4 linked regions of the Homo sapiens genome follow. The protein of the gene in region 4 purifies or fractionates together with the protein of the main gene of each other region. This does not show direct contact. Each region holds a gene or a part of one and is shown on either strand. Other genes may lie near its edges. The genes, in order: CHM, GBA1, SCARB2 and RAB27B.

The links.
Region 1: the proteins of RAB27B (region 4) and CHM purify together in Homo sapiens (co-immunoprecipitation; 3 studies listed by BioGRID and IntAct, with this or other methods). This does not show direct contact.
Region 2: the proteins of RAB27B (region 4) and GBA1 purify together in Homo sapiens (co-immunoprecipitation; 3 studies listed by BioGRID and IntAct, with this or other methods). This does not show direct contact.
Region 3: the proteins of RAB27B (region 4) and SCARB2 purify together in Homo sapiens (affinity purification with mass spectrometry; 2 studies listed by BioGRID and IntAct, with this or other methods). This does not show direct contact.

The regions. Positions count from the first base shown.
Region 1 is NC_000023.11:85,959,351-85,967,931, forward strand, and holds part of CHM (rab proteins geranylgeranyltransferase component A 1), read right to left. Parts: intron 4,703-8,581; coding exon 4,315-4,702; intron 1-4,314. UniProt on the Homo sapiens protein: Substrate-binding subunit of the Rab geranylgeranyltransferase (GGTase) complex.
Region 2 is NC_000001.11:155,232,728-155,238,249, forward strand, and holds the end of GBA1 (lysosomal acid glucosylceramidase isoform 1 precursor), read right to left. Parts: coding exon 5,407-5,522; intron 4,852-5,406; coding exon 4,614-4,851; intron 3,743-4,613; coding exon 3,518-3,742; intron 3,118-3,517; coding exon 2,954-3,117; intron 2,585-2,953; coding exon 2,468-2,584; intron 2,374-2,467; coding exon 2,268-2,373; 3' UTR 1,725-2,267; downstream 1-1,724. UniProt on the Homo sapiens protein: Glucosylceramidase that catalyzes, within the lysosomal compartment, the hydrolysis of glucosylceramides/GlcCers (such as beta-D-glucosyl-(1<->1')-N-acylsphing-4-enine) into free ceramides (such as N-acylsphing-4-enine) and glucose.
Region 3 is NC_000004.12:76,168,138-76,176,718, forward strand, and holds part of SCARB2 (lysosome membrane protein 2), read right to left. Parts: intron 8,392-8,581; coding exon 8,300-8,391; intron 7,774-8,299; coding exon 7,654-7,773; intron 6,177-7,653; coding exon 6,007-6,176; intron 1,849-6,006; coding exon 1,730-1,848; intron 340-1,729; coding exon 266-339; intron 1-265.
Region 4 is NC_000018.10:54,823,206-54,831,975, reverse strand, and holds the start of RAB27B (ras-related protein Rab-27B), read right to left. Parts: upstream 3,500-8,770; 5' UTR 3,276-3,499; intron 1-3,275. UniProt on the Homo sapiens protein: Small GTPase which cycles between active GTP-bound and inactive GDP-bound states. In its active state, binds to a variety of effector proteins to regulate homeostasis of late endocytic pathway, including endosomal positioning, maturation and secretion.

The sequences.
Region 1 (8,581 bases), on a different chromosome or scaffold from region 4:
AGTATATGTACTTCATTACTTTCTAAAATATATTTTTTTAATCTTAATGATAGAATACACCAGGCCCTGAGGGTTTTGGATAAGAATCTATAGTCTTACACAAAGCCAGGTAGTTATAAGAAGAAATCAGTCCAGTGAACCTCCCTACCCCATCAAAAAAAGAAAAAAATATTTGTGATGCATTTACACTGAAAAAGTCAAATTATAAGGTACTTCTGTAATTCTAGAAGTCTGGGTTTATATGAGATATGTCTTTCTCAAAAAGTGAAGATGATGATTATTGCTGGCATGTATGGGAGAAATTGATTTAATCTTTCAACATCTCATAAGTAATATCAGAGAGATAAAATCAATAATGTAAACAGTATTATCTAGCATGTTAACCGTATGGTTAAATGCAACAGATTTGACTATTTCCTATATTAAGATACTCTTAATGCCTATAACTCAATAAATATTAAAAATGAATGTTACATCTATAATAAATAAATGGGAAAATTAGCTTTACTATACAAAGAAAAAGGAATCTCAAAAATCAATCTAAACCATTAGTCTGAGCAACTAATAAGTCAGTAAAGACTATCAGTAAATCAATACCATTCAAGTAAAATTTTATAAACTAATAGTTCAGCATTCTGCAAAACAAAATTGACATCACTTTTTTGAAGCTAATCTGATCATCCTGATTAAATATGGCACGTTACTTCATTACCCTCTTCCTAACACACTACATTACTGAAAGAGACCATGTTTTAAAGAATATATTGCCAATTCTTAACTCTATAATAATGATAAAAAATAGTTACTTCAAAAATCACTTGTTTAAAAAGATACACATTTGAGACTCAAGGATCCCTGCATAGCCATAATAATGTCACAAACATTAAGATATAAAATATGAAACTGCATTTTTATTTAATAAGATCCAATAAACCTTAAGGTTTAATGCCAGCTTGAAAAATAATGCATTTAAGATATCACAAGAACAAAAACAAATTTCAATTAAAATTATACTAGATTTTTGTTTCTGAAGCTCACAAATAATAAATGTGTACATATCAGAATCTAAGCCTCTTTTTCTTTTTTTTTTATTGAGACAGAGTCTCTCTGCTGCTCAGGCTGGAGTGCAGTGGCTCAATCTCAGCTCACTGCAACCTCTGTCTCCTAGGTTCAAGCGATTCTCCTGCCTCAGCCTCCCGAGTAGCTGGCATTACAGGAATGCAATGCCACGCCCAGCTAATTTTTTGTATTTTTAGTAGCACACAGGGTTTCACCATGTTGGTCAGGCTGGTCTCGAACTCCTGACCTTAGGTGATCCGCCCGCTTCAGCCTCCCAAAGTGCTGGGATTACAGGACTGAGCCACCACGCTCAGCCTAAGCCTCTTTTTCACTACCCTCTAAGCGATCTACCACAGTGATGAGGGGCTAAAGAGCAGTGCAATTTGATTACAATAATGGAAATTAGATTTATTAATTAACAATTTTTCCTTAGCATGTTGGTTCCATAATTATTAAGAGTATGGACTTACTTAGAAATGAGCTTTCATTTTAAGAATTTCATCTTTGACCTTCTCTATTAGTCTGAGCAGTATGACACTATACGTATTTTATTTAACTAACCTACCTTGAGCTATTACTTTTTAAAAGGCTATATACATGAATGTGTATTGTCAACTGTAAAGCCCCACAGTATTTAATTATATCATGATGTCTTTGAGGTTGAACGCATATAGAAATGTCAACTAGTTTGGAGATACTGAGTTGGACTTTAGAAAAGAGGTAGGTCTTTGGACGAGCACGGTGGCTCACGCCTGTAATCCCAGTACTTTGGAGGGCCAAGGCAGGCAGGTCACGGGGTCAAGAGATCGAGACCATCCTGGCCAACATGGTGAAACCCCATCTCTACTAAAAATACAAAAATTAGCCAGGCATAGTGGCACGCGCCTGTAGTCCTAGCTACTCAGGGGGCTGAGGCAGGAGAATCACTTGAACCCAGGAGACGGAGGTTGCAGTGAGCAGAGATGGCGCCACTGCACTCCAGCCTGGCAACAGAGCAAGACTCTGTCTCAAAAAAAAAAAAAAAAAAAAAAAAGGAGGTAGGGCTTTAGGGCTTTAAGATAGATATTTGGCAATCATCCTAAACTTAGACGTTTATTAACTGCAATTATTAGAACAGATAAAATTTCTAAGGAGTGACCAATTGCCCCAATAACATGGAATACATTGCTTTCCATCTAGCATGCACTGAATATGTATTAAATGACTTAACATTTTAAAAACGGAAAATTAATCTCCTGTATTACTATGGTTATATGTGATTAAGATACTTCTGGTTTTGAAAATGAGTACATTAAATGTTTATTAGTTATTTTGTAGAACGTATGAACCCATGAAACTCTGCAGGACGCAGTCCCAACTGCCTAGTCCACTGCCTCTAGACATGTTTGGTTTTTACTTACCATAAGAGAACTGGTTATTACTAACCATTCAAACCGATGAAAATACCCAGAAGTCTCCTTCAGGGTATCTTCAAATGTGTCAACTTCTAATTCAATTGTCTTTTTCCTCCCACAACCAGCATTCATTTTCTTATACAACTGAATAATTTTCTACACCAATTCCTACAATTGAAACAGCACCGTCTTCTACCATTTCCCTTTGCAAGATATATACTAAATTTCAGCTAACATAAAAGTTACAGACTTTTATGAAATAGCCTTGATTCTTAACCACATTTATATCATCATTTATTTAGGTAAAACATTCCAAATTCCAAGTAATTACTTCAAAATGGAATTGTCACACAAAGCCCATTTGTTATTTGACTTGTTCAGTTTTTATGTTTTGTTTAACCTATTTCATAGAGTACTGCTCATGGGACCAGGAAGGTTATTAGTGAGCTAGGATTAAACTTCCATCCACAGATGAACAGCCAAGGTAATGTGGAAAAAATGCTAGATTTCAAATCATGACAGGGTCAAAGTAGATGGAGGTGGGAGAGATAGTACGGAAGTATGAAGTAGAACCAATGCAATAGCCAACTATGCAAAATCAGACACAGAGTGCTACATGACAGACAGAAAGAAAAATGGGTAGTAAAAAGATATTTATATTTTCAGGCATCAAGTTCAAAGGGAGCAAGAGTATGAGGATATGGGATTTGCAGAAACAACTTGTCAAGGGAAATGTTTTGGTCCCTCTCTGTCCCCTATCACTTGGAACTTGAAGAAAGTACATTAAATTGAAAAGCCTAGTTCTGTGCTAGTTCTGTGGCAAGTCTTGTGCTATTCACTATCCTCTCCTACTTCTTTTCAATTACTTATTGTTAGCTCTCAACTTATAGGATTTAGTCTGTTTTTCTCTACTTTTACCCTGTCCTGTATCATGACCCTTTAAGGCCATAATCCTTTATCTTACTGATTTTCTATTCTTTTGCACTAAAAATAGTCTTGCTTCCTATAAACCAAATGCAATATTGTACGCTTCTAAGATGGAGGGACCTCCTGTGAAGTTACAGTGAACTAACATTCAAGTTAGTTATGTTCAGGAACATAACCGAAGACAATAGCTTTCTTCCCAGCCTTCCTGCCTCCATCACTATTAAATTTTCCTCTGAAGCTTTCAAACCTGAACACATGATTTTTTTGAGACTTTTTTCTTAAATTATACTTTAAGTTCTGGGATACATGTGCAGAAAGTGCAGATTTGTTACATAGGTATACACACGCCATGGTGTTTTGCTGCACCCATCAACCCGTCATCTACATACCCGTCATCTACATACCCATCATCTACATAAGTATTTCTCCTAATGCTATCCCTTCCCTAACCCCCAACCCCGACAGGCCCTGGTGTGTGATGTTCCCCTCGCTGTGTCCATGTGAACACGATTTTTAAAAATTCATTGGTTTATTCTGAGTATTCATCATCATACAGTTGTGAAAATAGTTACTATACATAAAGGCTAAAAGAATCGATGGAAATTGACTGTAAATAACATGGATTTCTAAACAGGTTCATTAGAATTTTTCTTTTGATAGAATTCATAGTGTCCAGAGAATATTAGGTTGTAGTATGTGCTCAAGCACAAAAGTATTCTTCAGGTATAGATTAAAAACATAATTAAAGCATTTTCATGTGAGCACTTTAAATATGTTTTTAATTTGTACTTAAGGAATATTTTAAATGAATTACAAACATCTGGCTACTATCTCTTTACAAAACAAATGTTCTGCATCTCAGAGAATTACAAAAACTGGGTTTATGGGCCCAGATACTGTTTTCAATGCAAAGATGGGTAAAATTAGTACTTACCTTTGATACTAAATCAATATTAAATCTCCTGCCTTCTTTAATAATTTGTGAGTAAGTAATTCTGTTTTTCTTTGGTTGCTCTGTGGTATCTTCTGCTATAGGCACATTTTCACTCATGTCTTCTGCTGAAGTTGATGGCACACAAGTTTTATCATCACAATGGTTTTCTTTTTCCCCTGTCACTTCAGCACCATTTACTTCTAGCGCATTCTCTGGATCGCTGCTTGGAGTTTGTTCTGTGAGCATTTCACAGCTCATAGTGCTTAATGACTCATCCTCCGTAGGCAGGAAGGCAGAATCTGCAGCTTCTGTGGAGTTTGCAGATGTCACAAGAGCATGATTTTTCTGCAGTGCACCAGCTTCTTCGACATCTTCATGCAAATCCTGACTAATAAGAAATATAATAATAAACACCAGGCTTTATATATATATTCCCTTACCCCTTTTATCAAGTTCAGTGTACGTTTTGCTTATGTGACTCAGACATTAAACATTCATCTGTTAATGTTTCAGTAAAATATGAAACAAAATTAAGATTTGAAAGATATAAAGATTTCATGTCACATGCACATTTTTGAGAATTTAAGACAGACAGGGGAACTGTATTGGAAGCAAATTACCACAGTGATGAAGAACACAGTCTTCAGAATAACAGATCTTGGTTCAAACCCTGACCATATGACTAGTAAGCTCTGCGAACTTAGATACTTATGTATCCTCTCTGAGACCACCTAAATTACCCTCAATTTAGGTAATTACCTAAATTACCCTCTCTGAGACCACCTAAATTACCCATCTATGACACAGAGATAATACCACCTACCACAAGGTTGTTTTGAAGATTAAATTAAGTACTGCATGCAAAGAGCCTGACACAGTGCCTGGGACATAGTAAATACTCAACAGTGGTAGTTATCAAAGATGATTATTACTGAGGAATTCCTGACTTGGTGATACGACAGAAGACCTTCAATAAAGGGAAAAATATCTGCCTTGAAAAGATTAAGTTGGCCTATCACAATGTGGTATCTAATAGGACCTTTCTGTATAATTTCCTGCCTATTTTAGTACTGATGTCTATTACTCTAGTCGAAGCCCCATTTCCAAATTTATTATTGGAGCTAACATTCTCAGTCCACCATTGTCTTGATTTATAGAACAGGCTCCCATTCAGTCTGCCTGCTTTATGAATTTCTGTGATATTTTATCCTCCACAGAACCCACTATTTTCACTGAGTTGCCACACTGCTCAATACCTGGCAGAATGCCTTGTATGTGATTGGTCTTGGCAAGTAAAAATCTGCTAGTTGACTAACAGTAGCCCTAACAGTAGCCCTTCCTTATATCAAATACCCCACAAAAAAATCTTCCTTTTCCTGTCTCTAAACCAAACCACCTTCCTTATTTACTAATCTTCTGGTTTCATCTCCACCTACTTTCCAACATGGCATCTCTAACTCCGAATTTATCAATTCTAATTGTCAAATCATGACAGTTTGGTTCATATCATTTGTTTCTTCTGTCCTTTTCTTCCCACTCTGCATAATATCACAATTCTTCCATTCTCAAACATAATCACATACTTTAGCAAACTACTTTAAGAAAAAGTTTAAATTTAACTTCCAATTAGTCTTCCTTACTCCAATTACACTCATCACTCTATTATACCATGCTCCCATAATACACATATGCAGTTTACCTTGCATGTATTTATCCATTCCTTTTTAATAGTCCTTTAGTTTTCCAGTATATCCTTTATCTTCCAAATCAGACTGTAATTCCTTGAGGGAATACCTTAGCACCGCTCCTTCTGTGCCCCTCACGACACCTACCACACTGCTCCATAGATGTGGTATCCAATAAATGCTTAATTAATAATGGTTTATACGTGCAGACTATTTTTGTTTCAAATGCGAAACAAACTTGTTGCAAAAAACACAAAAAATAAGGCCAAGAAAAAAACACGGTATTGTAAATTAGAAAGTCCGAGTTAAGTGAAAAAAAGAAGTGCCTTATTAAAAATAACACAATGAACACTACAAAAAAAAATGAGGGACAATGATAGAATAACACTCAAATGTCAAGAAATAAAATGCCATATTTACTGTTATAGTAATTCTAATAAAATCTAGTGAAGAAACAAATTGATATCATTAATGTTACATGAATATTTTTGAGATCTAGGAAACCAAAGTGAGGAAAACACCCACTTTGTTCTATCCTAGATTTATCACTTAGGAAACACTTGGCAAGTCATTTAATCTCTCTGATTCACCACATATAAAATGGGGATCAGTCCATTTGCCTTACCTTTTATGAAACTGTTGTGAGATAAGGAAGCTAACATATATGAAAAGTAGTTTATAAACTCTAAAAGGTTAATCAAAGATAAGATACTAATCAGGCCGGGCACGGTGGCTTACACCTGTAATCCCAGCACTGTGGTAGGCCGAGGTGGGTGGATCACTTGAGGTCAAGAGTTCAAGACCAGCCTGACCAACATGGTGAAACCTAGTCTCTACTAAAATGCAAAAATTAGCTGGGCGTGGTGATGGGCACCTGTAATCTCAGCTACTTGGGAGGCTGAGGCCAGAGAATCACTTGAACCCAGGAGGCGGAGGTAGCAGTGAGCCAAGATCGTCCCATTGCACTCCAGCCTGGGCAACAAGAGCAAAACTCCGTCTAAAAAAAAAAAAAAAAAACTACTCAAAAATAAGATATTGTTAAACTGCCCACAGCTCAACAGTCAACTCAAAACCTGTATACCTAGGTTTTCTGCATTCACATGACAAAAGCCCATTGGCCATATAAGCACATAATAGCATCGCTATTAACAGCATTAAGAATGAAGAGTCATAATATGAAAGGTGATTTATATATTTTCTACAGAATTGTTCACACTCTTATTCACTTTTATTATCTTGAAAACCAACAAAACTAAAGTGTGTTACATGAGGGATCTAAGGGGACAATTTTCAGCAAAAGTTCCACACCTAATTTTTTGTTTTTCAGTAAAAGTTCCATGCCTAACTCTTAAAGCAAAAGTTCCATGCCTTTAATTTTAAGAAAGGATAATTAATTACACTTTACAGATAAGACAAAATATGGCAACTTCTCTTATTACAGACTATGATGATGACACTGTGAAAACTGAGCATAGCAAATGATCTAGTCAGTGGTTCTCTATTACATTCTGTGATGGGGGCCCTATAGAGTGAATGAAATACATTAACCAGTACTGGACAACCTGGAAGATATAAGTCAAAATACTTAATTAAAGGTATAAGCGAAGAGAAGAAATTATTCTTCGGAAATTTTTTCTACATCAATAAACTATCGTTTTACTGTTCTCAACATTATAATTTGGTGAGATTCCTAGCACTACGGAAAACACAAGCAATAAAAACACAACACTGTCCTCACTTTCCATTAAAAACAACCACAGTATTTTTGGAGTTCTGCCAAGGTTGAAGTTAATACCTAATGAGAAAATATAAAGACACCCAAAAGCTCCTAAAACTCCACTGACATCCTCAGAAAGCAAAATTCTGTTCATCTAAAAGGGTTATCTTTCCCCAAATTTAAAACTTTATACTGTGGTAAAAGACATTTTCTTAAAAAGATATTCAACCTTTCAGAGAAAACCTCAGAATCCAGTAATAGTTCAATTCTACTAATTTAAAAGTGTTTGAAAACTATAAAAACACATTTACCAATTACAAAACAATGTAGCTGCATTATAAGCCTTCAAATGAACCTTGGAGTTCTAAGATATTACAATGATTTTAACATACACAGGTGCTCCTCGACTTATGATGGGGTTACGTCCTGATAAACCCAATATAGTAAGACAAAGTGCATTTAATACCCCAATAAAACCATTACAAAGTTGAAAAATCATTAAGTCGAACCATCTTAAGCTGCAGACTGTTTATCTAAAGGAAAACAATCTGCATCATTAGTTCTTATAAAAATGTTCACTATCAAAATTGATTTCACAAATTAAATTTAGTGTCATTTACATTGCTAGCTTTAATTCCAAAGGTCATTTATAATGTAACAATATTTTTTAGATAATTTTTCTTAATAAAAACTGCTTAACACTGCTTTTTGTAAATGCATTTTTCACTAATTGCCAAAATTCATATACTACTCTGAGAGTTTGGAGGTATATATTCTGATATCATCTAGTACTGCTTCCCAATTAATAGTAATAACAAAGAAACACCTCAAAGTAAATGTGTCTTATGAATACCTTGTAACAGCC
Region 2 (5,522 bases), on a different chromosome or scaffold from region 4:
CACGCCATGGATATTTCCTCCACAGAAGTACAATGCTGATTATGATCTGTCAGCTCAGCAAGGGGCAGACACCCTGGCCTTCATGTCTCTCCTGGAGGAGAAGTTGATCCCGGTGCTGGTGAGTGTGCCCAGACCTCCCAGCATCCATGGCCAGCCGGGGAGGGGACGGGAACACACAGACCCACACAGAGACTCAGGAGAGCATGGAGGTCAGAAGCCCACCTTGAATCAGACAGGTGCACTGGCTCAGACCTGCCTGTTTCTTCCTGCCCACCCAATCCAGGTACATACTTTTTGGATAGACACCAAGAACTACGTAGAAGTGACCCGGAAGTGGTATGCAGAGGCTATGCCCTTTCCCCTCAACTTCTTCCTGCCTGGCCGCATGCAGCGGCAGTACATGGAACGGCTACAGCTGCTGACTGGGGAGCACAGGCCTGAGGACGAGGAAGAGCTGGAGAAGGAGGTAGCTCTGAGACCGGGGGCTATTGTATGAGATGAGCCCCAAGGATGCTGGCCAGGAATGGGAGTGCTTAGGTGCGGAGGTGGCACTGTTCCCGCAGCTGCAAGCCTACCTGTGTCGCCCCTACAGCTGTACCGAGAGGCTCGGGAGTGTCTGACCCTGCTCTCTCAGCGCCTGGGCTCTCAAAAGTTCTTCTTTGGAGATGCGTGAGTCTGACTCCAAGAGGGTAATGGGTGGCTTGGAAGAAGATACAGGTTCAGATGGAGCAGCTGGAGCTGGGGCTGGGGCTGGGGCTGGCTCAGGCTCTGGATAGGAGGTCCCTGAGACAGATACTGGCCCTGGTGACAGTGGGGCTGTGCGTGGGGCCAGAGCCTTCTCAGAGGTACAAAAGGGTAGGGTGGGAGGGCAGCCAGGCACAGGAAGGGCCTGAAGAGCTGTGGGGCACTGAGTGTGCCCTTTATGCAGCCCTGGGATAGAGCCCTATTCAGGGCCAGGCTGGCGCCACCTGGGGATCTCTCCCCATACCAGGTCTAGAACTGTGTGTCCTGTCCTTCCCTGGTGGCCGCCTGCTGCCCAGAGCCCACCTCCCAAGGCTGACTCTTCCTCCAGCTCCATCTTTACCCCTTCTACCCCAGTGGTTCTCCTCCATCCCACCCTTCTCTCTCTGCTCCAGCCCTGCCTCCTTGGACGCCTTCGTCTTCAGCTACTTGGCCCTGCTGCTGCAGGCAAAGCTGCCCAGTGGGAAGCTGCAGGTCCACCTGCGTGGGCTGCACAACCTCTGTGCCTATTGTACCCACATTCTCAGTCTCTACTTCCCCTGGGATGGAGGTAAGGGGCAGATGGGAGGGGCAGCCCTGGGGAGAGTGGGCAGGGATCCAAGAACTAGTTCTCCTAACACACCTTCCTTCCTTGACCCTCAGCTGAGGTACCACCGCAACGCCAGACACCAGCAGGCCCAGAGACTGAGGAGGAGCCATACCGGCGCCGGAACCAGATCCTATCTGTGCTGGCAGGACTGGCAGCCATGGTGGGCTACGCCTTGCTCAGCGGCATTGTCTCCATCCAGCGGGCAACGCCTGCTCGGGCCCCAGGCACCCGGACCCTGGGCATGGCTGAGGAGGATGAAGAGGAATGATTTGTCCTCACGCTCCCAAGACTGGTTTTTCTACTCTCATGCATTCCAGAGGCCCCCGTGCCTCCTCGTTGTTGGTACAGCCGGACACGGGGTGCTGCCACCCAGAATAAAGCCACTCACACTGACTGGGCTCAAACATTTTCTCCTTTAAGAGCTGCCATTTTTCCTGGCTGGTGCCATAGGAATCATCTGGGTGCCTGGGCACACCCGCTGCTGCTTTAAGGCTTCCGCCCTGATGCTGACACTGCTGCTCCACGGGCCCAGTTCTGCATCTCCAGGAAAGACAAACAGTCTCCAGTTTTGGGCCCAGCTTTCCTAGTCTCTTCTTTTCCTTACCCTCAGCCCTGATCTTGTGTTTGTACGGACAGTGAGCTCACCCTAGGCCTGGACCCAGGCCCAGTTTCCAAAGCAAGCAGCACACAGCGCATGTTCACATAAGCATGGGGGCTGGGGGGACACTGGGGCTTACTGATCTTTTTCTAGGGGCCTCCAGCCCCTGGCACCACCTAGAGGGGAAAGTGAGTCACCCAAACCATTGCCCCTGGGCTTACGTCGCTGTAAGCTCACACTGGCCCTGCTGTGCCCTCTTTAGTCACAGACAGCGTGTGAGCTGACTCTGTCCCTTTAATGCCCAGGCTGAGCCCAGTGCCTCCTTGAGTATCTGCTCCATCACTGGCGACGCCACAGGTAGGTGTGAATGGAGTAGCCAGGTGAGATTGTCTCCAGGAAGCCCACAGCAGGATCCTTGATGGTAAGAGGCACATCCTTAGAGGAGCTAGGGAGCAGGGAGGAGAAGCTGAGAGTGTGATCCTGCCAAGGCCCCCAACGCTGTCTTCAGCCCACTTCCCAGACCTCACCATTGCCCTCACCGGTTTAGCACGACCACAACAGCAGAGCCATCGGGATGCATCAGTGCCACTGCGTCCAGGTCGTTCTTCTGACTGGCAACCAGCCCCACTCTCTGGGAGCCCTCAGGAATGAACTTGCTGAATGTGGGAACAGATGGTCAGAGTCCCTCGGGGTACCTCCCATGAAACCCTCATCTAAGAAGTCACCCACCCACGGACCCACCCCATAACTCCTGCAGAGGCTCTGCCCTGGCTCTCTAGGCCTGGAGCCATGCTGCTGGGCACTGACCCTGCTTTTCTGCATCGCAGTCCAGCCTCAGGCATTGGGGTTTTCTGTTGCTACCTAGTCACTTCCTGCCTCCATGGTGCAAAAGGGGATGGGTGTGCCTCTTCCGAGGTTCCACCCTGAACACCTTCCTGCTCCCTCGTGGTGTAGAGTGATGTAAGCCATCCGATGTAGGAGATGATAGGCCTGGTATGGAATGGGGGTGCCCGCCCTCCACTCACCTGAAGTGGCCAAGGTGGTAGAACATGGGCTGTTTGTAAAACGTGTCCTTGGTGATGTCTACAATGATGGGACTGTCGACAAAGTTACGCACCCAATTGGGTCCTCCTTCGGGGTTCAGGGCAAGGTTCCAGTCGGTCCAGCCGACCACATGGTACAGGAGGTTCTAGGGTAAGGACAAAGGCAAAGAGACAAAGGCGCAACACTGGGGGTCCCCAGAGAGTGTAGGTAAGGGTCACATGTGGGAGAGGCAGCTGTGGGTAGGTCAGCCCTGTGAGGGGCACATTCCTTAGTAGCTAAGGAGTTGGGGGTGTGAAGATCCAGGCATCTCAAGGGGAGCTGAGAAGTCTGAGGCAGCTGCAAGTGCCTCAGTAGTTGCAAAAGGGGCAATGAGGTGTGCAGACCTGTGAAGGAAAGGGAAGATAGGGAATCATGGTTCCCCAGAGTTGCTCAAAAGGGCAGGCTAGCTGGGGAAAGCTGGACAGGAAGGGCTTCTGTCAGTCTTTGGTGAAACTAGTAAGAGGTCTGAGGTCTGCTTTGCAGGAAGGGAGACTGGGGTGGCTTACCGTGATGATGCTGTGGCTGTACTGCATCCCTCGATCCCAGGAGCCTAGCCGCACACTCTGCTCCCAGAACTTGGAGCCCACACAGGCCTCTGAGGCAAAGAGCATGGTGTTGGGGAACAGGCGGTGTGTCTCCCCTAGGGTGGCTTTGGCTGGAGCCAGAAAGTCCAGGTACCAATGTACAGCAATGCCATGAACATATTTAGCTGCTTCTGGGTCTGTCAGTACCTGCAAAGGAAGAGCAACTGATCCTGGACCTTGCACACAGGCTTCTGGAACTTCTAGTTCCTGTTGTAGGAATCCTGGAGTTGGGTGACGGGAAGAATGCAACTAGAGAGGTTTGGGGAGATTTTTTTTTGTTTTTGAGACAGGATGTCACTCTGTCACTCGGGCTGGAGTACAGTGGCGCAATCACGACTCACTGCAGCCTTGACTTCCTAGGGTCAACTGATCCTCCCACATTAGCCTCCTGAGTAGCTGGGACTACACGGGTGCCACACCCAGCTAATTTGTGTGTGTATGTGTGTGTATGTATGTGTGTGTGTGTATATATATATACATATAAACACATATATATGTATATACACATACATACATGAACCACCACCCCCAGCCTAGATAGTTTTGTTTTGTTTTGTTTCGAGATGGAGTCTCGCTCAGCCTCCCAGGCTGGAGTGCAGTGGCGCGATCTCGGCTCACCGCAACCACCATCTCCCGGGTTCAACTGATTCTCCCTTCTCAGCCTCCTGAGTAGCTGGGATTACAGACACCCACCATCATGCCCAGATAATTTTTTTTTTTTGTATTTTAGTAGACACAGGGTTTCAACACGTTGGCCAGGGTGGTCTTAAACTCCTGACCTCAGGTGATCACCCGCCTCGGCTTCCCAAAGTGCTGGGTTTGCATGAGTGAGCCACCTCGCCCAGCCCCTAGAAAGGTTTCAAGCGACAACTGTGGGATCCATGGCACCCTGGAGGTCCAGGGGAATGGTGCTCTAGGAATCCATAGTTGGGTAGAGAAATCGCTCTAAGTTTGGGAGCCAGTCATTTGGATGCTGGATTTGAAGGTCACTGGAGCACCATGGAGGTCCAGGCCTTACCACCTTTGCCCAGTGGGGCAGCAGCAAGCGTTGGTCATCCAGCATGAGTAGGCGGACATTGTGGTGAGTACTGTTGGCGAGGGTAGGACCTAGGTCACGGGCAATGAAGTCTCGCTGATGTTCAGGGGTGAAGCCCAGGCACTGGAAGGGGTATCCACTCAACAGCCCAGCAGAAGGCTCATTTTCAGCTGTCACTGCCCAGAACTGTAACTTGTGCTCAGCATAGGCATCCAGGAACCTGGCAAGAGAAAGGTCATGAATGATCCGGCCAAGAAAGTGGACCAGACCAGCTGGGTGTGGTGGCTCACACCTGTAATCCCAGCACTTTGGGAAGCCGAGGCAGGTGGATCACTTGAGTTCAGGAGTTCGAGAACAGCCTGGCGAAACCCCGTCTCTACTAAAAATAGAAAAATCAGCTGGGCCTGGTGGCAGGCGCCTATAATCCCAGCTACTTGGAAGGCTGAGGCAGGAGAATTGCTTGAACTCAGGAGGCAGAGGTTACAGTGAGTGAAGATGGCGCCACAGCACTCCAGCCTGGGTGACAGAGAGAGAGACTCCTTCTCAAAAAAAAAAAAAAGAAGAAAAATAAAAAGAAAGTGGGCCAGACCGAGAGAACAGGAAGCCTGATGGAGTGGGCAAGATTGACAGGCCCAAGGCTGAAAGGCCCAGAAGGTAGAAAGGTGAGCTGAGGACAGGCAGATCTGGAAGTGGAACTAGGTTGAGGGTTGGGACACAGATCAGCATGGCTAAATGGGAGGCCAGTCCTGATCCCACATCCTTGCTGATCCCTTACTTCACAAAGTATCTGGCCCAGGTCTGGTGGTAGATGTCTCCGGGCTGTCCCTTGAGTGACCCCTTCCCATTCACCGCTCCATTGGTCTTGAGCCAAGTGGGTGATGTCCAGGGGCT
Region 3 (8,581 bases), on a different chromosome or scaffold from region 4:
GATAATACAAGGTTATATGTGAATCCACATAAGGTGCTGAGAACAATACCTGATCCATGGGAAGTACTCTGTAAGTGTATGATTAAATAAAACAAGTAAATTCCAAGACCAAGGCACCCATGAAAATGCTGATCATGCCCCATCCCTGAAGGGCAGGGGTGAGCAGGCTTAGATGAAGTAGGCTGTACTCCTCCTGACATCAACCCCACCAGACGGGCAATGGAGCAAAACTGCTGTCCCCTCCATAGAAAGAAGCAAAACTTACACAAAGTCATCTAATTTTTTGACATAAATGTTGATTTGGAACCTCTTGGCTGCTTTTAGGATTATTCCAGTCAACTGCAAATCAGAGAAGTGAAAAGGAAACATTAGGATTTATTAAACTGCAAACAACTTTTTCAATAGAGCACCATTTCTGTGTAGTCCTCATAAACAAGGTGACCATTACCATGTGTGACAGGCAGAGTGGAAACAAGTAAAAGTGATCCCCAGAACAGAATGAGAACCATGGGTTGTATTAGGTGGCTGATAGACCAGTGTGTCTCAAACATGAGTATGAATGTAGGTCCTTGGGAATCCTGTTAAAATGCAGGCTCTGATTCAGTAGACTGGCCATTTCTAACAAGCTCCCAGGATGCTGCCACTCTGAATAGCACAGCCTTAGAAGGGATCCAACAGGAAGGAGGCCTAAAAGATAGCCTGTCAGGTCTGGATTTCCAGGCAGTTGTCCAGAGAGCTAAGAAGAGGGTGGTGGTCACTGCCAGAGAGTGGCATCCTAGTATAGGGCCCGCCTAGCGTAGCCATGGGGCACAGCTGCAGCACTTGTCATCCTTAGGGCAGCTCCATCTTTGCACTAAGGTTATAAGACTGTGTTCGTCCCTTGGTGACAAGCACTGCTAACAGTTTGGCTGATCCAAGGGAACTGATCAGCTGATGGCTAAGAGAAAAGGGAGAAAACCACACACGATTTTATTCACCAGAGCATAAGATCACTGGTTTCTCAGATACAAATGCAATGTATGCAGCTAAGAGTGTGAAGTACCCATAAAATACTGTGCTAAAAGAATGTTCTTGTTTTTTTTTTTTATTGGTCCATAATGTTCAAATTCCAAAAATGAAGACATGGTTAGCATGGTTTTTGTTTTTCTCGTCTATGAATACAGGAGTAAATGTGTATTATACACACACACACACACACACACACGTGTGTATGTCTCCTCTATGTATATCTGATACCTTTACAATTAATAATATAATAAACTCTCAAATAACCTGTAGAAAGAAGTTTGCCAAAAGTGACTGAGGTTAATATACATATTCATATTTCAACCAAAATATTCCTGGCAGTGAGGAAGCAAAGGGACATCTTTAACCTTATCGATCTGTGTCCCAAGGGGAGAAATAAATATATGTTGAGGTCCAAGGCTAGCATCAGAAGATTGACCAGGTTATATGGGTACATCAGTAGTTTCCAATAACTGAGTTTTCACTGTTGCTTTTTGTTAAAGGCAGGTTTGCTCGTATTTCTGCTATTCAATCCACAAAATTCAGCCTTCTAATTACAGGGCTATGAGACAATGCCTCCATCAGCACTGAGCTGAATTTCTCCCACTTGAATATGTATATGAAAGTAAGGATATTTTTAAAGAAGGCTCAGGACTAAACTGGTGAACAATGTATAGACAGAATAAAACATATGCTCTTTTACCAGGAGGAAGTATGTACTCACAGGATTAATGTCCACAAATGTCTCATGGTCTTCCTGATTTGGGTGCATGCCTTCTATGGCAGAAACAAACCTCTCATCTGCTTGGTAAAAGTGTGGGAAAGACATAATGATGGGTGCACCTGCATTTGAAGGAAAACAGAAATGAATGATGCTGTTTTTAAAATCTAAGCTGAGCTGAATATAAAAGTTCCTGGCCACAGCCTGGTTCCTAAAGAAAAACAAAAAAGCTACATATAAATTAACTTGGGTAGGCTAAAACACCATCCTTTACCTCCTAGTTCAGGATTTATACTTCATTTTCTGACATCTCATTTACCCCCAATTTTTTATTCCACATTATATATTGAAGTTCAGGCTAAATTATTTATTCTTCAACAAATATTTACTGAAGTTAAAGTATAAGTGCTTCATACACATTATTTTATTTAATGCTCCCAACAGCCCAGTAAAGTCAGAACTATTAGCCTCACTTTGCATTTGAAGAAAGTGAGGTTCATAGAAGTTACAAAATTTACCCAGGGACAGCTAGCCATCAGGCTATGAAGGCAGAATACTAAGTGAATGAAGGGTGTTGTACCTCAAAGCACTAGTTTCAACTACAATTCTCTATCAGTAAGTGGACTGACTTTTTATTTCTTGTCCTTTTTAAAATTAAAAAAAAATTTTTGGTGGTTTTTTGTTTTGTTTTGTTTTGTTTTTACCAAAGACAGGCATAATCTCAGCTCACTGCAGCCTCCGCCTCCCAGGTTCAAGCAATTCTCCTGCCTCAGCCTCCCAAGTAGCTGGGACTACAGGCATGCACCACCACACCCGGATAATTTTTTTGTATTTTTAGTAGAGACAGCGTTTCACCATGTTGGCAAGGCTGGTCTTGAACTCCTTACCTCAAGTGATCTGCCCGCCTCAGCCTCCCAAAGTGCTGAGATTACAGGCTTGAGCCACCACACCTGGCCTACATAATTTTTTAAGAGTTAGCCTGGTTGTGCTATACACCCAGCCTCTAACCAGATCACAAAGATTCTGGGGTTTTTCCTTTCCTATTCATTTTAAGAACCAAATAAGTGCTTATGTAAATTTAAATATATATATATATATATATATATATAACCAAATAGGGAAACAAGTTACTAAAGGAAACCTATTCTAGATCTGGCTATTGAAAAGAAGAGAGGGACCCAACAATTGCTGCCAGGGAAATACATTTTTGGAGAAAGGAGCTTGTCGGCAAGTTATTTAAATTTGCTTACATATTCACCAGCCCATGGCTTAAGGAACTCATCCCTCATCTCTCACATGCACATGCATTTTGCTGTTTACTGCTGAATAGTTCCACAAAGGCATGACTTCCTTCTTTGTGACCTATAATGACCTTGAAAATGTATTTTTTAAATCTGTTGAGGGCTTAATAGGGGCTACTGTCCTGAGTGTTTTATATATATTATTTCTAACTCTCACACAACCTCAAGAAGCTATAACCACCTCCATTTTATTAATGAGAAAACTGATGTCTGGAACCCTCCTTAATAAACTTTGGCCAATTTACCAACAAATAGAATAGGACTCAAACCCAATCTGCCTGACTCCAGAACACTCATCCTGCTATCCAAAATGTTTCCCTGGAGAATTCAAAACACTGGAGGATAATCCTGGGGAGTTTCACTTCAGTCCAAATTCGGGAATACGTTAAGAGGGAAGAGGAAAAGGATTGTAGCAAGAAGTTTAAATGTGTAAAGTAGAATACTTCTGTTGATTCTGGCATCAGCTTCTTAAGGAAACAGAATTTAATAAAAACAGCAAGAGAAAATATATCTACATTTTTGCTTTGAGCCAGATGCACACCAGATGAGGGGGCAGGGACACTGTTTCAGGACTATTACCAGTAAGGCAATGGGGGAGATCACAACCAGGAACTTGTTCCCATTCACCCTTGGTCTTTATCTCCAGGTAAAGGGTACCATGTTCCCTTGCACAATGGTCCCCAAATACCTAGACGCCATCTTTATGGAAATCAGCTGGAGTACTTGTTAAAAGTGTAGATTCTGGGGCCCTGGTATATCCAACATGGGACCCTGGGACATACATGCATGTGTGTGCACCATGAGTGTGTGTGCACACTTGCGCACGTGTGTGTGTATACCTATATATATATACTATATACATATATATTAAAATATAGCAAATATAAGTATATGCAAATATATGCATATTTATATATAACTATAAAATTTGTTAATATACTCATATATTAACAAATATATTAACATATACATACATAAATATATACATGTGGCTGTTAAAACTAGTCTTCAAGATGAAAAATACTTTTGTCAGTTGTATATATATATGTATATATACACATATATATGATATACGTATATATAAACAATTTTTTATATATATATAATTTTTTTGTTTTTTGAGACCAGGTCTCACTCTGTTGCCCAGGCTGGAGTGCAGTGTTGCAATCATAGCTCACTGCAGCCTTGAATTCCTACGCTCCAGCCTCAGCCTCCTGGGTATCTGGAACTATAGGTGTATGCTACTATGCCCAGCTAATTTTTAAATTTTTTGTTCAGATGGGGTCTCCCTGTTGCCCATGCAGGTCTAAATTCTTGGCCTCAAGTGAGCCTCCTGCTTCAGCCTCCTAAAGTGTTAGGATTACAGGCATGATCCACCATGCCTCACCAATATATTTTTAATAACTCTCCAGATAATTCTGATGTAAAGCCAGGTGTGGGGGTCACTGCCCTGTCAGACAAGGATCAGGAGGTATACTGCTGACTTCAGACTTATTCCAAAATGATATCTTATTCTTTTTTTTTTTTTCTTTTTTAAAAGATGGAGTCTCGCTATGTTGCCCAGGCTAGAATCAAACTGGGCTCAAACGACCCTTCCACCATAGCCTCCTGAGTAGCTGGGTCTACAGGCACACGCCACCATGCCAGGCCTGAAAGGAGATTTTAAAATGAGATAGATAAGGGAGCAAAAGTGAGCACATTACTATTCAGGAGAAAGGGACTACACAGAGAGCTCTCCAGAGAAATTTTAAAGAGGAATTACAGCCCAAGAGGGAATCACAGGGCAAATATGAGAAGACCCTGAGTTCCGCCAGGGATCTGCTCAGAGGGAGGAGTCGCATCAAAATCACGTTCCCTCTCTGAGCCCTAGTTTCCCCAATTATAAAAACAGGCCGCTGAATGTCTACTATCTAGTAAGTTCATTGTGAATAATTCTGCAACATGTGGCTGTTAAAACTACTCTTCAAGATGAAGAAAATAGTTTTGTCAGTTGTGCCACTGATAATTCTGCCTCATTCATGGAAAGGAGCAGAGTAGCTCTGACATTAAGAAACACTGGGACATTTGTGTCAGGGTTTAAAACTAACTCTGCTTCAAAATCACTGAGAATCTTTGCCATGATACGTACTTTCTTAAAACTGAGTTGTCCACTTTTTCTTTTAGCTTTTTTTTTTTTTTGGTGGGGAGGTGCGGAATCACTCTATTGCCCAGGCTGGAGTGCAGCAGCACAATCATAGCACAGTGCAACCTCGAACTCCTGGGTTCAAGCAATCTCTCTGCCTCAGCCTCCTGAGCAGCTGTAACTACAGGTGTGTGCCGCCACACCCAGCTAATTTTTTAATTTTTTTTTTTTTGTAGAGACAGGGTCTTGCTATGTTGCCCAGGCTGATCTTGAACCCCTGGCCTCAAGCAATCCTCACATCTCGGCCTCTCAAAGTGCTGGGAATACAAGCATGAGCCACCGTGCCCAGCCTTAGCATTGTTTTGAACATGAAATCAGTTAATGTTTTGCATGCATTAACTACATGTAAATATGTAAAGCACTTAGGACAGTGACTGGCATACATCAGGTGCTTAGTAAACATGAGCTATTATTACTGTTAAGACTTCTAAACCACTGTCCAGAAAAAAAAACACAACATGGCATTCTAGAAATAAAAAGCATCACAGAAAAGCCATGATTTTTTTTTACCATTCAATAGCCATGTTATGAAACATTGTTCTTGAAAGAAACTGATCTTTCTATTGGGCTGACAATATATTCTTTTTTGTTTGTTTTGTTTTTTAGAGACAGTGGTCTCGCCATGTTGCCCAGGATGGACTTGAGAACTCCTGGGCTCAAGTGATCATCCCACCTCAGCATCCTTAGTAGCTGGGACTGTAGGTGTGCGCCACTACGCCCAGCTACATATTCTTTGTTGAACTCCAATCCTTCTGCATTCTTGACACCCCTATCATGTCCCCTCTCTGAGTTCTTACCATTCTTGCAGATGCTGACATTCAGAACTCCTGAGCCCAGGCAGTTTCCCTCAGGTATACAGAAGCCGGCATTGTCTGACGTATTGGCTAATATTTCTGCAGGAACTTTATACCGAAAGGCAGGCAGTCCCTGTACACTCTCATAGTCACTGAAAGTAATATACACTGACCTGTTAGGATGTAAGAATAAAAAGTGAATGTGGACTCTGGTCAGTGTAATCTGCCCGAAATCCGCAAGTTAGCAACAGTTCTCAGGTACAACATGGCCAAAAGCTCACAGGGTAAGTAGAAAGGAATGTTTGGAAGGCATTCTGTCAACTCAACGTGTAATAAAGCAGAAGATGAATTGTAGTGGAAGGTGTTTATTGTAGCAACGGTGATATCATCCAAACAAGAAAAAACAATATGTGGTACAAAATTAAGATGATAACATTTAGAATGGAGACTCACATAAAAAAGAAATAAGAGGCCTCTCTAGACCTGCATGGACATATGCCAGTGTGGACGGGCCACCGGCAAAGCCAGGGAAGCCAGGGCACGGCAGAGCCAAAGCTAAGGTAGAACAGGCAGCGATGGCCGTGGCCTCGTAGGGTCTTAGGCACTTGAAAAGTGTCACATTGGACAGATACTTTATTGGAATACACACTTTGATACTCAATCCCCCCCTCCAAGAAAAATCAGATTCCATATTTTGCCCCAGTCATTTATTTAAATGGAGTTCAACGTAATTCTGCCTTTCATTCTTACTGATTTCAAACATAGTCCCATGTAATATGACCACTGCTTACACTGCATAGTGCCTAACCACTTTGATGTACACAGTCACCACTGAGCCTTCAGCCCTTCCTTTGAAGGCTGGCCGGAAGAGCCTTCTGGGCCTCACTTTTTCATCTCTGAACCAGAGCTGTTGATACATCTCTCGCAAGGTTGTGAATAACATAGGTGGTTTCACTGCACAAACCAAACCACCCCTACAGCATTTTTTAATGAAAAATTTTAGGCACCAGAAAGAGATAAAATACTCTAACAAATACCTTTGTATCTGCCACTTAGACAAATAAAAATTATATTATGGATATAACTGAACCTGTCTACGTAATGCTCTTGATTCCATTCCTTCTCTGCCTCCCCTGAGGAAACCACTCTGCTGAAATATGGACAACAGTATCTTTTATTTGGCTTCCATGTAGAGACTACCTATTGACTGGAAGTAGACCAGGTCAGTTGATGCTTGACAGAGCATATCATAGTAACTAAGAGCCAACACTTAATATTGGTTACTGTGTGATGGGCCCTGGGCTAAGTATTTGACTAATACTAACTCATTTGTCCTCATAACAACCTCTAACATAGTTAACAATTTCTATCTTTGTTTTACAAATAAGGAAAGTGAGGTACAGAGTGGTTAAGTAATTTGCCCAAGGTCACACAGCTATAAGTGGTAGAGCCAAGATTCAAACCAACAGTCAGAAGTCTGTGCTGTGAACCAGTACACTATACTGTCTCGATGTGCCATCAGCATTTATCACTGATTATGCATAAATATCCATGCATAATAAGTGTGTCTGCATATATTCCTCATGCTTTTGGTGGTCTTGCAGTGAAAGACCTTATTTTTGAAAAAGAACTTATCTTTAAAGCTTTTACCTGCAAAAGTCAGATGGGAAGACATAAAGGACCTCATCTTTGGTTATTAGTGGGTGAAAAGAATCTCCATCTGTTCCATTAATCATATTGCACTTGTCTGTTATCCACCAGTCAAGTGACCTATAATTGATAAGCACAAGAAAGAGTAAAGATGATCACATTTGAGTTTAGATTCTCTTAAATGGTCAGGACTTTGCAAGATTTAACTGGAGCTGTCTATCCACAGTATCTTATTCATACACAGACACAACAGTTTTAATTAGATCAAGGGGGAGAAAAAGTAGGTCCCTGGCCCAAATCAGCTTTCATAGAGGCAATGGCCAAATAGCCCAAAACATGTGGTGGTTTGAAAAGTATTTGTGCTGTAGCTACTACACATCACTCAATGACTACTAAGCAAGAGTGGGACTTTTCACTGGCCTGTAATTCATGCCTGGCCATGATAAATCTACAAATCACTAATATTTAATCTGTAAGATGTTTTACCACCATCTTGATTTGTAGAATAATAATTACAAGACTATTTACATGTTTTTATATTTTTCATCCAAAAAAGGCTAAACACATTTTTAAGCAATGTAGAAGTAGACATGTAGTTTAAATGAAAACTGAAAAAATAATTCCACTGATAAATCATTTGACTTACGTTTTCCCATTCCATTCCACAATTTTTGTAAAGTTAAGGTAACTGTCTTCTCCAGTTAGAAAAACATAGTCTCCATCATTAGTCCCATTTTTCTGAAAATATGTGAATATGATCATTTAAAGTAACTGTGATAATTTTATGACAACTTGGCTAGACTATGGTGCCCAGTTGTTTGGTCAAACACTAGCCCAGATGGTGTGGTGAAGGTATTTTGTAGGTGTGATTAATATCTACAATCCGTTAACTTTAAGGGAGGTTACCCTCAATAATGAGTGGCTGGGC
Region 4 (8,770 bases):
GGTGAAACCCCGTCTCAACTAAAAATAGAAAAATTAGCTGGGCATGGTGGTGCATGCCTGTAGTCCCAGCTATTCAGGAGGCTGAGGCAGGAGAATCACCTGAACCCGGGATGTGGAGGTTGCAGTGAGCCAAGATCGTGCCAGGGCACTCCAGCCTGCCAACAGAGCAAGACTCTGTCTCAGTTAAAAAAAAAGAAAAAAAAAATCACCTCCCCTGAGGCTTTTCTTGACCACCGAATCACACAGTCCCCTTCAGGTCACTCTCATTGTATTACCCTTTAACATTTTTTCTTCTTAGTATCACTAAAAGTTCCAGAATTACTAATTTGTTTATTTACTTATCCGTCTCTTTCCAAACCCCAGATATAATGTCCATGACAGCAGAGGCCTCGTATATCTCACTAACATCTGTTATCCACAGGGCTTAGACGAATATTAAAGTTCATAGTATGCTCAGTAAATATTTATTGAAAAATGTTCAACGGGCTATATCTAAATCATAGTGTTTTGTCATTTTACTTGGAATAAAAAACAAAGGCCAACATGTTCATTAGGACCTTCAAAGTCCTCCAAGACCTGTCCCCATTATCTCCTCTCCCCCATTTCTTGCTACCCCCATCTCACTCCCTCTGTGCCAGGTTCATGGGCTTCTTTGCTGTTCCTGAAAGATGCCAGAATGCTTCAATCTAGAATGCTCTTCCTCCACATATCTACATGGATCATTCCATTACTTGCCTCTGATTGATATTAAAATATCATCTCAGTGAGGCTTTTCCTGGGCATCTGATCTAGAATTTCAGTCCTCCCTGACACCGGCCACTGACACTTTCTGCATGCCTCCTCGGCTTTATACTCTCTGCTGAGCACTTCTTGCTACTGTGCCATAGACTCACCCTGCTTATCTAGGTTGGTCTTTGTCTCCCTGGTAAAAGATAAGCTCTACAAGGTCAGGAATTTTGGTCCACTTCTGTCCACACAGAGCCCTGAACAGTGCATAACACTCTTACCAAATATTTGTTGAACAAATGAACAAGCAACTTAATTATCTCAATATATTGAGCAGTTGTTTAGTTAAAAAGACAAAATTTATTTAAGATTTTTTTGGCCATTTGATAAACAGAGTGTTACTCTCCTTATTGGCAATCTAGACAAGTTTGTCTTATTTAAGGAGTGCCAATGGGAGGTTAATATTTGGAGAACATGAATAATGATTGCAAAGGGTGTGAAAGAAATTGAGTAATACTATCAACTCCATATTTGGGGTTTACAATAGGTATGTTATTATGCATAGTGATGTTGCTGCTTGCTACTTCTATAGTATATACTTAAGCCCATATATACCTAATAATGAATTTAAAAAAAAAATCATTCCCATTTGGCAGCCATCTTTAGAAAGTGACATATTCTTCATGGGAAACACCTGATTTGTCCTGTCTGTTTTTATTGAAATCATTTCCTTGCATCTCAACATTACAATTACTTGCTTAAGAGCTGAACTATTGGTCAACCTGCCTTGATGAATCAACTGAAGAAACTGGATTGTGAGATGAGTTTTATATGAGTAATTGTTCTATATTTCATGCCGTACTGATCTGAGAGCCCAAAAACCTAACCAAAAATTTGCAGGAGTGAGGGTGGGAAAAGAGCAGGTTTCTATTCTGAACTACCTGGACATTTGGATAACTTCCATTTTTCCAGAAAAACAGTGAAATAAATGAACAGCAATTCTGAAACCAACATACAGTTGTAGTGTAAACTGGCATACCAACTGATCTTCTACCAAGAAGATCAATTATATTAGGGTTACCTTCCCTATTGGGTCAAACATGCCTGTTCCAGAAATGACCTATGAGAAAGGGGAACTGTGGTTTGCTTACATTCAACAGATTCCCTTTATCCCTTCTTGGCAACTATGAGAACAGGCTCATCCAGTTTTATCTGCTATGTTTTGTTTTCCTTTCGAAAGCAATGACAGTAACACTGTATGAGAGGCCATAGTCAATTCTGAAACAGAAAAGCTCCATTAATATTAAACTATCTGTCAAGATTACCCCTTTTTGGTCATTGGTAGGAATCACCTCTTGCCTTCAAGGATGGCTGACCCCATCTGGGTAGAGGATTATGCTAGGAAACTATGAAAAATAACTATTTGAGGGGCAATGGCACATGACAGGTATGTCTCTCTCTTCATCACTGCAATATGGACTTTACAGCAGCTTGAAAATTCATTAAACTTAAATATCTGAGTTTATATTAATGCTTAAGTCTATCCTTTCCCTCAACTTTTCAAAATTTATAACCATAAAACCCTGTATATTCTATATATGAATGAATATGTGTGAATATAACTAAATATTGAGAACTGTAGACATTTTTCTTATAAACAGAACAAAATCAAAATTCAGAGCTGTATTATATTAAACAATAATTTTGTTGTTAATAACCTTGAAATTTATGTTATTACTTTGGGCTTAATTTAATGATGTGCAGTTTAAAACAACTGGAATTACATACCCTTAGCTTTACATCTTGACATAAAAAACTCACAAAACATGATACAGGTGTGAAGGCTCTAACCAAACACAGCTTTTTCCTAGGAATGCAGTCTCTGCTTACAGTTCACCTACTTCAGTAGTTTTCAGAGGCTTAATTAATGTTGCATTGGGTGGGAAAGTCTTGAAAGCTAATTTATTGTGATCAGTTGGGTGAACACACATGCACACATATACCCTAGTTGGTGCAACACTTAGATCAGAATTCGAAAGTAACAGAGCAAAAAATTGGAAAACAGAAAGTACTCTTAAGGTCTCTGTGGCTATTTCATCTAAGGAAGTGCATATAAATGTCTTATTGCTCTCCTGGCTTGCCTCACTAAGTCGCTCCTCCTGGAATGAAACTCTGAGCACATCATCATCCATGCTTTTTCTTATTCATTATTTTGATTGTTTTTTGAGATGCAAATGAAAGGAAATTGGCATTGCTGTGCCTAGGCTTTTTGTTTTTCTTTTTGCTTTTTTTGGTGGTAACCAGCTGTTTGATAAGCAAACACTCAAGGAGAGCCAGGTCGAGTTGGCCCATGCCATCCGTGCAGCACACAGCACTACTGTCTTCTTTGCAAGGATTTCTGCTGGAAACCGCGATCGAAGGTGCACACGCACTCACACATGCACACACACACACACAGAGGCCTCACTTCCCACGGCGCAGGCCGGCGCTGCAGCACCCGGGTGGGTGGGAACGCGTTCCAGCAGCAGCAGCCCGCCTTCCCAACTCACCAGCCTGCGAAGTTTCCTTGCCGGGAGAGCAGGTGTCAGATTTCAGAGAGGTTTCCTTCCCCTTCCCAAGCCCTGGAACTCCCGGGCTCCACCGTCAGCAAGGAGACAGGATCTGCTCCACAGGGCGATGAGCACGGGGACAGCTACTTATCTCCTCCAACCTGTGGCTCCGGATGGGTCCAAGGCCGGGCGGTCCGCAGCCCCTGCCCGTCAGGACTGCGAGTGGCAGGGCTGGTGGCACCACCCTCGGAGTCCGCCGCGGCGGCGGGGCTGGGTAAGGTTTGTGTGAGAAGAAGGCGTGTCTGCAAGTCCCAACGCGGATGTGCGGAGCTCACCTCAGGCAAGTCTTGCTGGTGACTCAACTGCTGCAGTGAGAAACACACTCCTCTCGGGGATGAAGTCTCCACACTGTGGGGCTTCTAGCCTTACCAGCGAGCTCATTTTTATTCATTTTTGTTCTGTGTTTTCTTTGATGTCTCTCATTCAAAGAGCCCAGGGCGCTGTGAGAACTGGGGCCCTGACATTGCGTTCTCTCCTCCGAGGGGGTGTCTCATTAACTATGAGGAGTGAAGGCGAGGGATTGCGAGTGGGGAGCAGAGGATGGCCTCGGGAAATAAAAGAGGGCGTTGGAAAGAAATTAATATTTTAAAAGTTAGGATGTGTTCGTATGAATGCATTAATCAGTATGCAACATCCAAATTCACTTCCCAAAGCCCTAATTCACTTCCTAAAGTCACTTCAGAGATCAATAGGTTACCACTAAGTAAGATAATGAGCACACGGAGGCATTGAACCAGTATTTGTTAAGCACCTACTATGTGCTATGCCGTGTTCTAAACACATTAGATTCGTCCACAAAGCAAAGATCCTGGCTGCCCATCTTGGGATTCCATTTTAGACACATTCAGACATCCCTAATTTACAGACTGGTAGTAAAGGTAAGAATACAAGGTTAGGTACATTATAATAACAACCGATTTACTCCTCTGTGAACAAAATTTAAAAGTTCCAAACCTGTGTCTTGCATTCATGTTAGTAAACAACGAGATGCCAATGACTGCTTGAATTTTAATTACTTAACTTGTTTCTTATTCGATGCCCTAGAGACAATCTGGGAGGCACTGCTGTTATCAGCTCCCAGAGAATTTCTTGTAGAAGGGAGCAAAGGAATAGCCCAAACCAAAACACAAAACAAACAATAGCAAACTAGTGGAAAAATGGAATATTAGAGAAAACATTTTGGTCTCATAGAAATCTGTCTATTCTATTATGAAACTATTAAAGAAGTTCTATTTTATGTCCTTCAATGTTCTTGAAAGTTGAAAAGAAGAGTAATAATAATGTCTTCATAGTGTTATTGTGAAGAATTGACTTCATATCAGTAATGTGTGTAGAACGTGCCTGGCACAGTAAGTTCTATGAATGTGTTGGCTATACTTATAATTTTGGTAACAATCTATTCCATTCTCCCCAAGTAAGATCCAGTTCCTAAAAATTATTTTGGATCTACTGCATAAAAGTCTTTGAGGCTCAGCCTGTAGATTTTCAAAGTATGTATGCTTGGAATCTATATTTATGATAAATCTACTTTGCATTTAACAGCAATATCTAAGTATATAAGAAGTGTGTGTCCATGGGCCCAGACAGAAATAAAAGAAAGAACATAAGAGCCTTGAATCTTTTCCACTGTTAACACATTGACTTAAAATCACCCTCTGTGCTATACAATGATAACCCATATTCTTTATCTAGTTCATGTGTTCACTACTGACATTAGTCCTAATAGCTATTATTTCCTGTATGCAATAGAGTTTCATCTCATTTGGCTTTCACAACATTACTGTGAAATAGGCAAGGCGTCTATTATATTTATTGTCTCCATTTTCAGAATGAGGTAACTGAGGTTGAGAAAGTCGCAGTAAATCTGTCCAAAGTGATGAAGTTCAAAAGGTGGAAGACAGGTCTATTGATCCTGAATGCCGAGCTCACAGTGGTCACTGTGTTGTACTACCTCACTGCAACTTCTAGAAAAGGTTCCTGCCATAAGAAAATCTGACACACACATTTATTGATGACTCTCCTTGCCACCTTTCCCTAGATAAGTGTGTCACCTGCTTTATAGGGCCAACTCTTGCAGGGATAGCTCTCCTGGAGTGACTTGCCACATATGGTCCTGTCTCCGAGGTTCCAAGGCTCAGATTCAGTAGTGTTACATAGTGACACTACCAGAGAGTGGTGGAACATTTCCTTCCCTGGGAAGAGGGGTTCCAAGGAAGAGAAAGAGTAGGAAGACATAAGAGAAATGTTGCTTGGCCACTCCATGAAGGCCACTTTGACCAGAGGTAGAGCAGAATAAAAAACAGTGGAAAACCAGTGAAAACAAGGTGACAGCATTGTGTGTCATGATAATAATAGTAATAACATCTTCCTGTACCTGGAGTTTATGTAGCATAACTTAAGTAGACATAACATCTGTCTAATTCAATCAATATGGCACTGAGGTAAACATTAATGTACATGGGGTGATGTGTAGTTACAAATGGCAAGATTATCACATGTATTTCATCTCTCCTCAAACTGCTTTATTACAAGAATAAATGAATTTTTTTAAATGTTATTGAATCACAAAGACAAATAAGCAGATAAAATAACACATAAACTTGTAATGAATTTTGGAAGAAGCTAAATCAGATGCAGGCGTGGTAACTGATTTGGAAGAGCAGAGGATTCTATACACTGCATGCCTGCAGGAGAGATTATGGTAAAAAGCAAGCCAATTCTTCCTGCAAAACCTGGGCAGGCTCAGGCCTAGGAGGCAGAAATCTCAGCATAGAAGGAGGCCAGGTGGTGGGGTAAACACAGGGGTTTGGTTATACGTCTGTATATTGGAATGCTTGGACCCAGAGTTCCCTTCCCCACTGTCACACAATCAACCAACCATAAGTTCCTCCATCTGCTCAATCCAGCTTCCAGGAGACTGGAGGTTTATTTTCTGGAGAAAGTAAACTAGAGTAATTTGTGGTTCAACAAGATGAACTGAACACATGCCTTTTTACCCTGCTCCTAGAGATAATGAATAAAAAAGAAATTTATATACAAAACAGGAAAAAAATCTTTTGAAATTGAAAATATACTCAACATTTACAAAAAAACTGACAGATGGGTTAGAAGACTAAGTTGAAAAATCTATTTAGCTGCAGAAAATTTTCAAAAAATGGAAAAAAATTCTGACTAATGGAAATCTCAGAAAGCTCTAGAAAAGACTTCTTTCTATGCAGAAAAGGATAAAAACACTAATTTGAAAACAATGCAAAAACAATACCAGAAATGAAGATGATGAACTTTGGAGATCGAAAGTTTCACTAAACGTCCAGGAAAACAATCCTTTAAATTAATCAAATAATTAAACTCATCGAAATATATCATTCTGAGATAAAATAAATGCAGGAATAAAGAGAAAAACCTAAAACATCTTCCAGAGACATAAAGCAGATCACATACAAGGAAAAAAAATTGCATTGGATTTCTCAAGAGCAATAATGGATCCAGAAGTTTCTTTGAATGCCTTCACATTTTTTAAATGAAATTATTTTGAACTTAGAATTGTATATCAAGACAAACTGTCAGCCAAGCTTGATTTTAAAAAATTTTCAGATATGCAAGGACTTAAAAAATATACATCCTGTGTGCCATTTTAAAGTAACAGTTCCCCAAACAAGCTTATAAATCAAGAAAGAGGAAGAGATGAAACCCCAAAAATGCAGGCCCAACATAAGAGGCAGTAAAATAAATTCTCCAGAGCAATAAGTGTGAAGCAGGCCTAAAGAGAGGTGAACAGATGGCTTGCAGTAGGAATGTCTCCAAGAAAAAAAAAAATGGAAAGAAAATGATAGATTGTTTGATACACATGTGCATTTGAAAATACAGTAGATAGCGGGAAGTGCCCGCCAGATTCCATGTTCTGCTCTTTTTCCTGAGCACCACACTAGATTTCATTTCTTAGCCCCTTGCAGGTGGGGAGGCATGTCACTGAGGTCTGGTTCATGGATTGTGGGCAGAAGTCATGTACATCGCTTCCAGGGTATGCCCATAAAATAACCCCTGAGATCCTCCACACTTCCCCTCTTCCCTTACTAGTGCGCAGATGCGAAGAACCAACGAAGAGCTCTAAGCCCCTAGAAGACATGAAAGCCCCTAGATGAAAAGTCATGAACCTGAATTAGGGTGTGACATGGCTACCTCAGCTGCCACACATTGGACTACCACATGAGCTAGAAGTAAACTTGTATTGTATGATGCCACGAAGATTTTTTAGAGTTGTTACCACAGTTAGATCACTCTGTTACAGTCTTAAAGATCAGTCAGAGGCAATTGTGAATAATATACAATAGGTACGGAGTGTGCTGAACTAATTTTAAAAGGATATTATTAACTCCATGAGAAACAAAAAGTTGCAAGAAAAAAGAAACATTATGATAGAATACCACTTTGTTCAGATCTGGACATAATAAAAATATTGGGAATGCCAACAAGAGAATTAACCCTAACCTACAATAAAACTACATGTGGAGGATGGCAGAGGGAAAGACTATCTGTGTATATGTGCAGAGAAGACAGCTAAACCCTCAATCATCATAACAAAAATCAATAAATAATGTGTAAAGTTGCTAAATAAAGAAATAGCAGGATAGGCAAACCAATTAGACATATAAAAGTACAAAAGCTGCTAAAGAGTCAAATGTTTGCCTGTGGGGATTAAGACCAGGGCTTAGGAGGCGATCTGCACTGTTCCACAAGAACTGTAGATTTTGATTTTGTTTTAAATTATGAGATGTATTACCTTAATAAAAATAAAGTTAATTTTAAATTACCCTTAAAATACACATAAGGAAACAAAAGATATTTGTTCTATAGAGAAAACACTATGCTTTATTAAAGTATTTGCATATACTTTAATATAATGATCTATAAGCAGTGGAGAAAGTGAATTGAAATGCAGAATGAAGATAGATTTGAGAGGTTTGCACAATGATTTATTCATTCAACAAACATTTATTAAGCAACTTGTGCCTGGTACACTGCCAGGTATGGGGGATGCAGTGCAGAACATGAAGGAAAAATAAAGGTGGGTTCTAAGAGAAAACCAGCATTTGTAAGCTTTAAACAACAAATATATTTGGTTTCTTCTCTCTTGTCTTTAGTAGCATGAGTCACTGACCTTCTGGTCATGATAATGCCTTTCATCCTTCACCATCCTCTTAAAAATTTCTCTTGACTTGACCCCCTCACTGATGAGATCCGAGATTTCGTAACCCTTCTCTTGCGATTGCAGGGAAGGCTTCACCAGAAAGTTATGCACGGGTGTGCCCCTACCTCCTGCTGATTTTCTGTTCATGTGAAGAAGTCTGTTTAATCACAAATAAAAATCCACCCTTCTCCAGTTTGAGAAAACCTCACAGTGTGACTAACAAGTCATAAGACTGGACTTCCAGGCC